Linked DNA regions of Homo sapiens: regions 1 and 3 are each linked to region 2. Evidence: fine-mapped expression QTL. A gene starts in region 2. Each other region holds a variant in brackets. All regions are shown on one strand. Distances are from middle to middle.

Evidence for each region. PIP is the estimated chance that this variant, and not a neighbour inherited with it, causes the effect.
Region 1: its variant is fine-mapped to the expression of ATP2B4 in whole blood (TOPMed, PIP 0.98).
Region 3: its variant is fine-mapped to the expression of ATP2B4 in esophagus mucosa (GTEx, PIP 0.92).

The regions. Positions count from the first base shown.
Region 1 is chr1:203,742,517-203,745,277 of GRCh38, forward strand. ATP2B4 (ATPase plasma membrane Ca2+ transporting 4) reads left to right here. Exons shown (of 21, transcript NM_001684.5): 21 at 1-1,565. It overlaps LOC102723543 (a long non-coding RNA gene), which reads right to left and starts at 2,043. Exons shown (of 2, transcript XR_426890.4): 1 at 1,689-2,043. The variant T/C (reference allele first, on the strand shown) is at 1,352.
Region 2 is chr1:203,625,265-203,628,025 of GRCh38, forward strand. ATP2B4 (ATPase plasma membrane Ca2+ transporting 4) reads left to right here and starts at 1,568. Exons shown (of 21, transcript NM_001684.5): 1 at 1,568-1,955. RefSeq lists enhancers at 562-1,436, 1,437-2,309.
Region 3 is chr1:203,548,398-203,551,158 of GRCh38, forward strand. No RefSeq gene overlaps it. Among named protein-coding and RNA genes, the nearest start is that of OPTC, 56 kb to the left of the region's middle. The variant T/C (reference allele first, on the strand shown) is at 1,669.

The DNA.
Region 1 (2,761 bases), 120 kb after region 2:
GGGGAGAAGGAGAACGTATCATCCTAGCTTCCTCTCTTAATAAACCTAGAAAAACGGGTAGTAAACTGTGGATAGTCAGGAAAACACCCAGCAAGGGACACAGCTGTCAGGAAATGAATCTTCCCCCCAACCCCCACCATGCAGATGGATAGACAGAATCTTTCCTGACTAGTCATTAGGATCAGGGGCCTCTGTTGGATTTGTGTTTCTTGAAGAATAGCTGGCAGAGTGGTATAAAAGACACGAATATCTCCTGGTCTATAAGGATACTCTGATTTGGGGTTTGCATTTTTCATGGTTTTTATTTCCTGTTCCCCCTGGAGTTTTCCATTAGTGAGTTTTTGTGCAAGGATCTTATTTGTGATGCCTTCCCTCCCCTAGAAAGATTTTGTGCAATATATTAAATGGGGACAGAATTCTAAATGGATAAAACAATGGCTGGTTCTAGCCCTGAGTGACAGTCTTAAGGCTAGATCCTTCCCATAGTATCATCTGTCCTCTGGAATGACTCTCCTGTCCCTAAAGGGGTTAAGAGAGAGATCACCTAGAAATCCCTCTGGACACTTGTGGGTTCTTTAGGGTTTGAGTTTCTTCTTCCCCTTGAGCTTCAGAGAGGAGAGTTGGCATGGTTAAATCTGAATGGTTACCTCACTGCTGAAAACCCAGAGGGGCGTGGCACACTCGCTTGTGTGGAAAAGCCTCTAAATGCATCCCTTCCTTTCTTTCCTGCTTCCTTTGCCTTACAATTGAAGCAGCCCGTGGTACCATCACAGTATGCAGAGACTTCCTCACCTTTCATATCTAGGGACCACCCCCGATGCATTGGTGAGGGTGGGCACTTATAAATGCCTGCTATTGTTAAGCCATTCCAGCCTCTTCCTCTGAATAGACCAGACGCCCTTTCACTTAGTTCAGTGCCAGTCCTTTTGCCTTCCCAACCCTGCTGTTAGGCCTGCTGTTCCCTTTGCTCTTGATTAGGAGAGATGGAAGGAGATGAGCTCCCATAACTGAATTGGCCTTTGGTTCATGTTTTCTCCCCATATGTATATATGCCATATGTGAATATGCCATATATATGTGCCAACAAATCTATCTACGTTGTTCTTTTCAAATTAGCACGCAGATAGGAATTTTGAGTTTCTTCTTCTTTTAGTAACTAGTATAACAAGCACTGGTATTTTTGTACAAAAAAGAAAAACAAAAGATTGACTATTGTGGTCTGCATGACATAAACAAACAAATGGTGATATCAAAGCAACGTATACCCCAGTCCAGTGTGTGTTGCCATAATTTGCAATTCAGCTTAACAGTGCACCCAATCTATATTTGCATTTTGATATTATTTAAGCTC[T/C]ATGTACAAGGTTTTGCATGTATTTATATGGTTCTTAGGGAAAAAAAATGCTATAAACTGCAAATCTGAAATTCAAATGTGTTGTTCCACTGAGACCAGAAGAAGAAGAGGAGTTTTAAAAGGGATAATTTGTTGGAGCCAATAAAGCTTTTTGCTGATGAACAGAAACCAATACTGCTGTGCACTGAGAATAAAAACTCATGCCCACTTGTAACTGTGCTGTCCTCAATGCGTCTCCACTTTTGGGTAATGCCACTGATTGTCTGTTGAAGTTGAGAAGGGAAATGCCGCAACCACAAGGACAACCCCATTTAAACAGGCACAGAATTCAGCTTACCACCAGACTCTGACAACGCTTCCCTTCCCTCTGGGCCTTCGCATTGGCTTCATTCCCTTGCAGTGCAAGCTGTGCTCCACCCACCTTGGTTAGAATCCACAGTTCAGGAGCTGGAGCTTTTGGAAGAATAAGAAAGAGGCAGTCTTGGCAGTCCTTGCTTTTTTTCTTTCCTTTTTTTGTTTTTTGTTTTTTTTGGTTTTGGTTTTGGTTTGTTTTATATGAAATGTCTTTTAGGAGAAGTAGTTTCCCTTACATTAGCCGCCTTTCCCTTGGGTTCTCCACCCTCCCCCTCACTTCCCTATGGTTTAAAAAATGTCTTTCATTAATTGAGTCTTGCTAGAGACTCATATTAGGCCCCAGTTTCAGGTCAAAACAGCTTCCTGGCAGGTCATTTACATTCTGAGCTTTCATATCTGAGACAACTCCTTCCTGCAGCTCTCATCCAGGTGCACGACGAAGTTCCCCAACCCTCTTTTAAAATATCACAGGGAGGAGCCAGGCACAGTGGTTCACACCTGTTGTCCCAGCTACTGGGGAGGGGAAGGGGCTGAGGCGGGAGGATCGCTTGAGCCCAGGAGTTCAAGTCCAGCCTGGGCAACATGGCAAGACCCCATCTCTAAAATACACACACACACACACACACATCATAAGGAGGAAAGGACCTTGTCCACTCCCCAAATTCCTTTAGGAAAAGCATGACATTGAAGAACGCCCCAAACTCTCCTGGCTATTTTAATAGTCTGGCTCTGAAAGAGGATCTAGCCCTGGTTGAAAAAGACTTATGGCCGGGTGCAGTGGCTCACGCCTGTAATCCCAACAGTTTGGGAGGCCAAGATGGGTGGATCACCTGGGGTCGGGAATTCGAGACCAGCCTGACCAACATGGAGAAACCCCATCTCTTCTAAAAATACAAAAATTAGCCAGGCATGGTGGTACATGCCTGTAATCCCAGCTACTCGGAGGCTGAGGCAGGAGAATCACTTGAACCTGGGAGGCAGAGGTTGCGGTGAGCCAAGATCACGCCATTGCACTTCAGCCTGGGCAACAAGAGTGAAACTCCATTTCAAAAAAAA
Region 2 (2,761 bases):
TGCAGTGAGCCGAGATCACGCCACTGCACTCCAGCCTGGGCAACAGAGCAAGACTCCGTCTCAAAAAAAAAAAAAAAAACCATAAAGAAAAAAGAAATAGCAGGGTAAGAAAATGAAGAGGAAAAAGAGGACCCAAATGAGAGAACATTGGGAAGGGTGCTAGTTGGACACGGGGGAAACTGGACCCCGTTTCACAACCCTGTTTCTCCATGCACATGTGGCTCTGCTTCTTGGGGGCAGAGATGACAGCAAAGAAGGACAGGGGGTGGTGTGAGCTGTTGGGTTAGAATGATAGGATCAAAGAGGCCTTTTCCCAACCCTCTGTTTAAAAGGTTGGGAAGTAGTGGCCAGTCACCTTCTTCACAGCATAGCTCATAGCTATAACCTGTGAGACATATGTCAATGTGCCTTCCATAAGCATATAAACATGAGTGTGTTTGCTGAGGTAGGTGTGGGAATCTGTCAGTCAATGAAGATATGTTGTGTGAACCAGCTGATGGTGCATGTTTGTGCTTGAAAGCCATAAAGTTCTATGCAAAATCTATGGGTGGCACTGTTGCACAATGCTAGTGGGTGTGTGGGTATGGGGGTGTGATTAACTGTTTACAGGCTGTGTATAAGTGTGCATGGATGTCTGAGTGTGTGCAAATTAAAACGGAAATATGTGCCGGAGTATGATACAAAGTACAGGAAAGTACTCGGGCTTTGGAGTCTGTCTGACTTGGTCTTGAATCGTTGGCTCTGTCATTAGCCGGATGTATAACCTTGGGCCAGACACTCAATCTTCAATTCCCTCAACTAGGAAATGAGGTTAATAATAAGTACCTTTCAAGATTAAATGAGGACTAGAAACGATACCATATAGACAAAGCTTTTGGTGTCATAGCCCACGCATAGCAGGACTCAAAAGTAAGCAGCTATTTTCATGCACTGTCAGTATACCTCTGGTGGGTACAGGGACAAGAGGGAACAAAATGTGACCTGTATATAAGGTGTAGGGGAGGACGGGTGTGTGTGTGTGTGTGTGTGTGTGTGTGTGTGTGTGTGTGTGTGTGTTTACAAAACAATTTATTCTCCTTCTCCAAGGAACCCCCTATTCAGACAGGAGCAGGAAGGTAGGAGGGGACATACAAGTGTCCACAGACACCTCGGGTTTCTGGGTCCTGGATCTAAGTGAGTAAGGGGTTGAGAGGCCCGTAGGAGCTGCAGGAAGCCAGCCGCCTGCCCAAGCTTCCTTTTTTTTCCCCTCCGCCCAGCAACCGTTGAATACCGCCACCCACATCCACTCCCCACCTCCACCCTCACCCCTCCTCCACCCCTACTCAGCTTTCTATTCAACAAGTGAGAGCAAGGGCGGGGAAGAAAGCCGACAGGGGAGAGGATTGCTTCCCTTTCTTTTCCCATTCCCCCTTAAGACGAACCAGGAAGTAACCGCAAGAATCGGGCCACCTTAACAGTAGAGTAATGGTTTGGCCTCGCGCCAAGTCCCACCTCTGTTCCAGCTCCTGCTCCTCCCCTCTCTCTTCCCGCACTGCTTGGGGAGAGCTGGTGAGCAAGAGTCTGGCCCGAGTTAGCTAGAGCTGTTGCCATGACAAGCATTTTCTTAAGAAAGCTCTGCTGTTGAGATCGTCCAAAGCTGGGGGCTGGGAGGGGGGGCACGAACTTCGTGGGGCACCATCCCTCCGAAGAGAGCAAGATCAGAGACACCCGCCCAGCTCTCCTGCACCCTTTTTCTTTCAGGAACCTGAGAGGTCCTTCCCATTGGAGGGGCAGGGGGAGGAGACCCAGCCCACTCCCCGGCCTTAGCCAGAAAGGCAAGAGAGCAAAGCCAGCGTCTCTAGCTTGGTTGCCACACTGGGGAGACTGGTGGGTGGTCACCCCACCCTACCCTCATCCATGGAAACCCGGAGGGAGAGTCCCGCCTGAAGAAACCTGGATCTTTGCTAGAAAGAGAGGTAGGCTTGCAGAGAATGAATTGACTTGTGATTTGCAAACTTTGTTTCTTTCTTTTCTCTCAATGGCTTCTAAAACTCCCCGATTTTCCTCTTTCTAGAATATTTCATGCGACTGGGTTTGGAGGATTTTTTTTAAAATATGTGTGTGTGCACAGATTTGTCAAATACTGTTTTACCTATTATCAGTTCTGAGAAACCATATAGTCGAACAAGTGATTTATCTCTCTTTTCCTAGTTCTTGTCATTCCTGGGCTATGGGGTAGGGTAATGGAGGGTTCTCTTTTTGACACCAAAATTGAGCTCTTGGAAAAAATATTTATCTCCCCTCCCTCAACCCATTCCGTTCCTGCCCTCCCCTTCCCCCCTTGGCTTGGGAATGAGACGCAGGATGGAAAACTGTTGCAAAAATATTTTCCGTGTCTGTTCCCTTTCTCGAAAGCCCAAAAGAGAGATGGAAAAAAAAAAAAAAAAGGAACCAAAGAAATCTTCAGCAGAAAGAGGGGCTGCAGCGGGAACTAGGAGAGGGGCACTTTGGGGCCATGGGGTGGAGGTGGGCTGGGAGAAGTTGGCAGGAGTGGGGAAGGAGAGTGCACGAATTAAATTTCTTTAGCTTTGCAGAGAAACCTCAGCAGTTTCTCTGTGCTGCTTGCAAAACATCCTCAGACTTTCACATGTATAATTAGCTGTGGAAAAAGCTGGGAGTTACCTCGTACCGCTGTTGTTTGAGTGTGTGTGAGCGTCCAGAACCAACTGTATGAGTGTCTCCGAGGGCACCGCCCCACACATCTCTGGTCCCAAAGGGGAGG
Region 3 (2,761 bases), 77 kb before region 2:
CTAAAAATACAAAAAATTAGCTGGGCGTGGTGGTGATCACCTGTAATCTCAGGAGGCTGAGGCACGAAAATCACTTGAAGCTGGGAGGCGGAGGTTGCAGTGAGCCGAGATGGCGACACTGCACTCCAGCCTCGGCAACAGAGTGAGACTTGGTTAAAAAAAAAAAAAAAGGAATTTTAAATGAGATAACATATTTGCATCTCGTAGCATAACAGTTGACACATCATTAATGAGAGAGAGAAGTGATATGGAATTTATTTTTAGGTCAACATGTCAGTAAATGATCAGGTTATTATTCAAGGAACAGAAGACAAGAAGACACACTCCCTAGGAAGTCCCAGCAAGAATATTCATGCAGGTAAGATAGCTGTGAGGAAACATTTCTACAAATCACAACTGTCCTGTCCACCCATTGTGCTATCAAAATTTCCGTTCAGAGAGAGACTTTCCTTATCATTGTTAGAAAAATCAGCATGCAAATGTGATGAGCATAGAAGAAACAAAGCTGGTGAAATAAACACATGCGATAAAAGGACAGAGAAAGCAGAATAAATGTAGGAAAGAATCTAATTCTCCAGAACTTCAGAGCCAAAAGGGGCCTCGGGGATCAGCTGACAAACCCCTTAGTAACAGAACCTTCCCAGCAGCCTTTATTTCCCCACATCTCTCTTACATTTTGCCAAAGATAATATTCACTTTGATGTTGCAAAAGCTTTAGTTTGCTTGTTGTGTTTCCTCTCTCCATAATGGTATGTTAGGCCATCCTTTTGTATTGGCAAATTGGTCTGACAAAAAGAGCATTATAAATTGTGAAAATACAAACAAATTCTCCCAGCTCTGAAATTCTCCTTGGACTTCAGTGGTTGACACAAATAATTTAGAGGTGATGGAGTTCCTTGAGTGCAGAGGGTGACAGAAGTTCATTCTTCCTCTGGCAAAGAGAGAGAGAGAGAGCTGTCTCCCTGCAGTTTGGGAGACTGGGCAACCACTCTCTAGGGATGCTACAGAGCTTGCTGTCCTCCCTCCTTCCAGACAGGTTGGCAGTCCTGCTGAAAGCTGACTCCTCTTTCCTGAAAGTCTATGGGGTGGGGGTGGGGTGGAGGAGTGCTATGCATCCAGGTGCCCCGCTCTGGTGTAACCTGAGACTAGAAGGCAACTATATTCCAGGCTTTTGAGAATACTGAGTCAGGGTAATGGGGATGACAGGACAAAGGCCAGGCAGGACATGCTGGAATTTGTTTTTGTTTTGTTTTGTTTTTTGAGACAGAGTTTCACTCTTGTTGCCCAGGCTGGAGTGCAGTGGCGCTATCTCAGCTCACTGCAACCTCCACCTCCCGGGTTCAAGTGATTCTTCTGCCTCGGCTTCCCAGGTAGCTGGGATTACAGGCGCCCACCATCATGCCCAGCTAATTTTTGTATTTTTATTTTTAGTAGAGATGGGGTTTCACCATGTTGGCCAGGCTGGTCTCGAACTCCTGACCTCAGGAGATCCACCCACCTCGGCCTCCCAAAGTGCTGGGATTACAGGCGTGAGCCATTGCACCCAGCCAAGTTCCACTGTTCTTGACAGCACCACCTTGAGCATGCCTTGCAGGGACCCTTTCCTGTGCTTCCCCACTGCTCTCCAGGAGCTGTCCTGGGCATAGACAAACAGAGCCAGTGCCATCT[T/C]CCCAGAGCCTCTTTAGAAGGACCCAACAGGATTTGCTCATATTTCATTCTCATCTGTTTAGAAAGGAAATCAAAACAACTGCACAGGCCACGTGCAATGGTTCACACCTGTAATTCCAGCACTTTGGAAAGCTAAGGCAGAGGAATCCCTTGAGCCTAGGAGTTCAAGACTAGCCTAGGTAACATAGCAGAACCCTGTCTCTACAAAAAACTTGAAAATGAGCTGGGCATGGTGGTGTGTGCCTGTGGTCCCGACTACTTGGGAGGCTGAGGCAGGAGTATCACTTGAGCCCAGGAGTTCAAGGAGGCAGTGAGATATAGTCATGCCACTACACTCCAGCCTGAGCAACAGAGTGAGATCCTGTCTCTAAGAAATAACTAAAAATAAAGTTTTTTTTAAAAAAACTGCATAATGCAAGGAGGCTACTTTTGAAGCAACCATGGTTGTTTCAGCGACCATGATCCTTATCATAAAGGCTCCCTTACTTTCCTACCTGGGCAAAAACCAGTAACCCAACCACAACCTTGCCTTCCATTCCGGCCAGCTGTGGAGTGAGAGATTCTCTAAGTTTCAGGATTTTCCAGTGAGCTGGTGGAAAAGATTCCTGATGTTTGGTGAGTTTCTGTCAAGAAATCAAATCATGGCTGGGCATGGTGGCTCACGTCTGTAATCCCCACACTTTGGGAGGCCAAGGTGGGAGGATCACTTGAGACCAGGAGTTCAAGACCACCCTGGGCAACATAGCAAGTCCTTGTCTCTACGAAAATAATTAAAAAGAAATACATTCATGATTTAAAAAAGAAGAAATCAGATCAGTCAAATGTGCACTACATTGCTCATCTCCATGCCCAGGGAGTCATTTATTAATTTTTTGAAAACATGATTGAGGTCCTACTCTATGCCAGTTGCTGGGTTAGATGCTGAGGAGACCAAGATGAGTAAGACACTGCTCCTCCTCACATCTTGGGAACAGAAACTTAACAGCTGACTCCAATATGATAAAGTGTTGCGACTTGTATTTGGTTTCAACCCTTGGGCAAAAAGAACTTAGTAGTTCATGTAAACTAAAAAAGCATAAATAATCAAAATGTT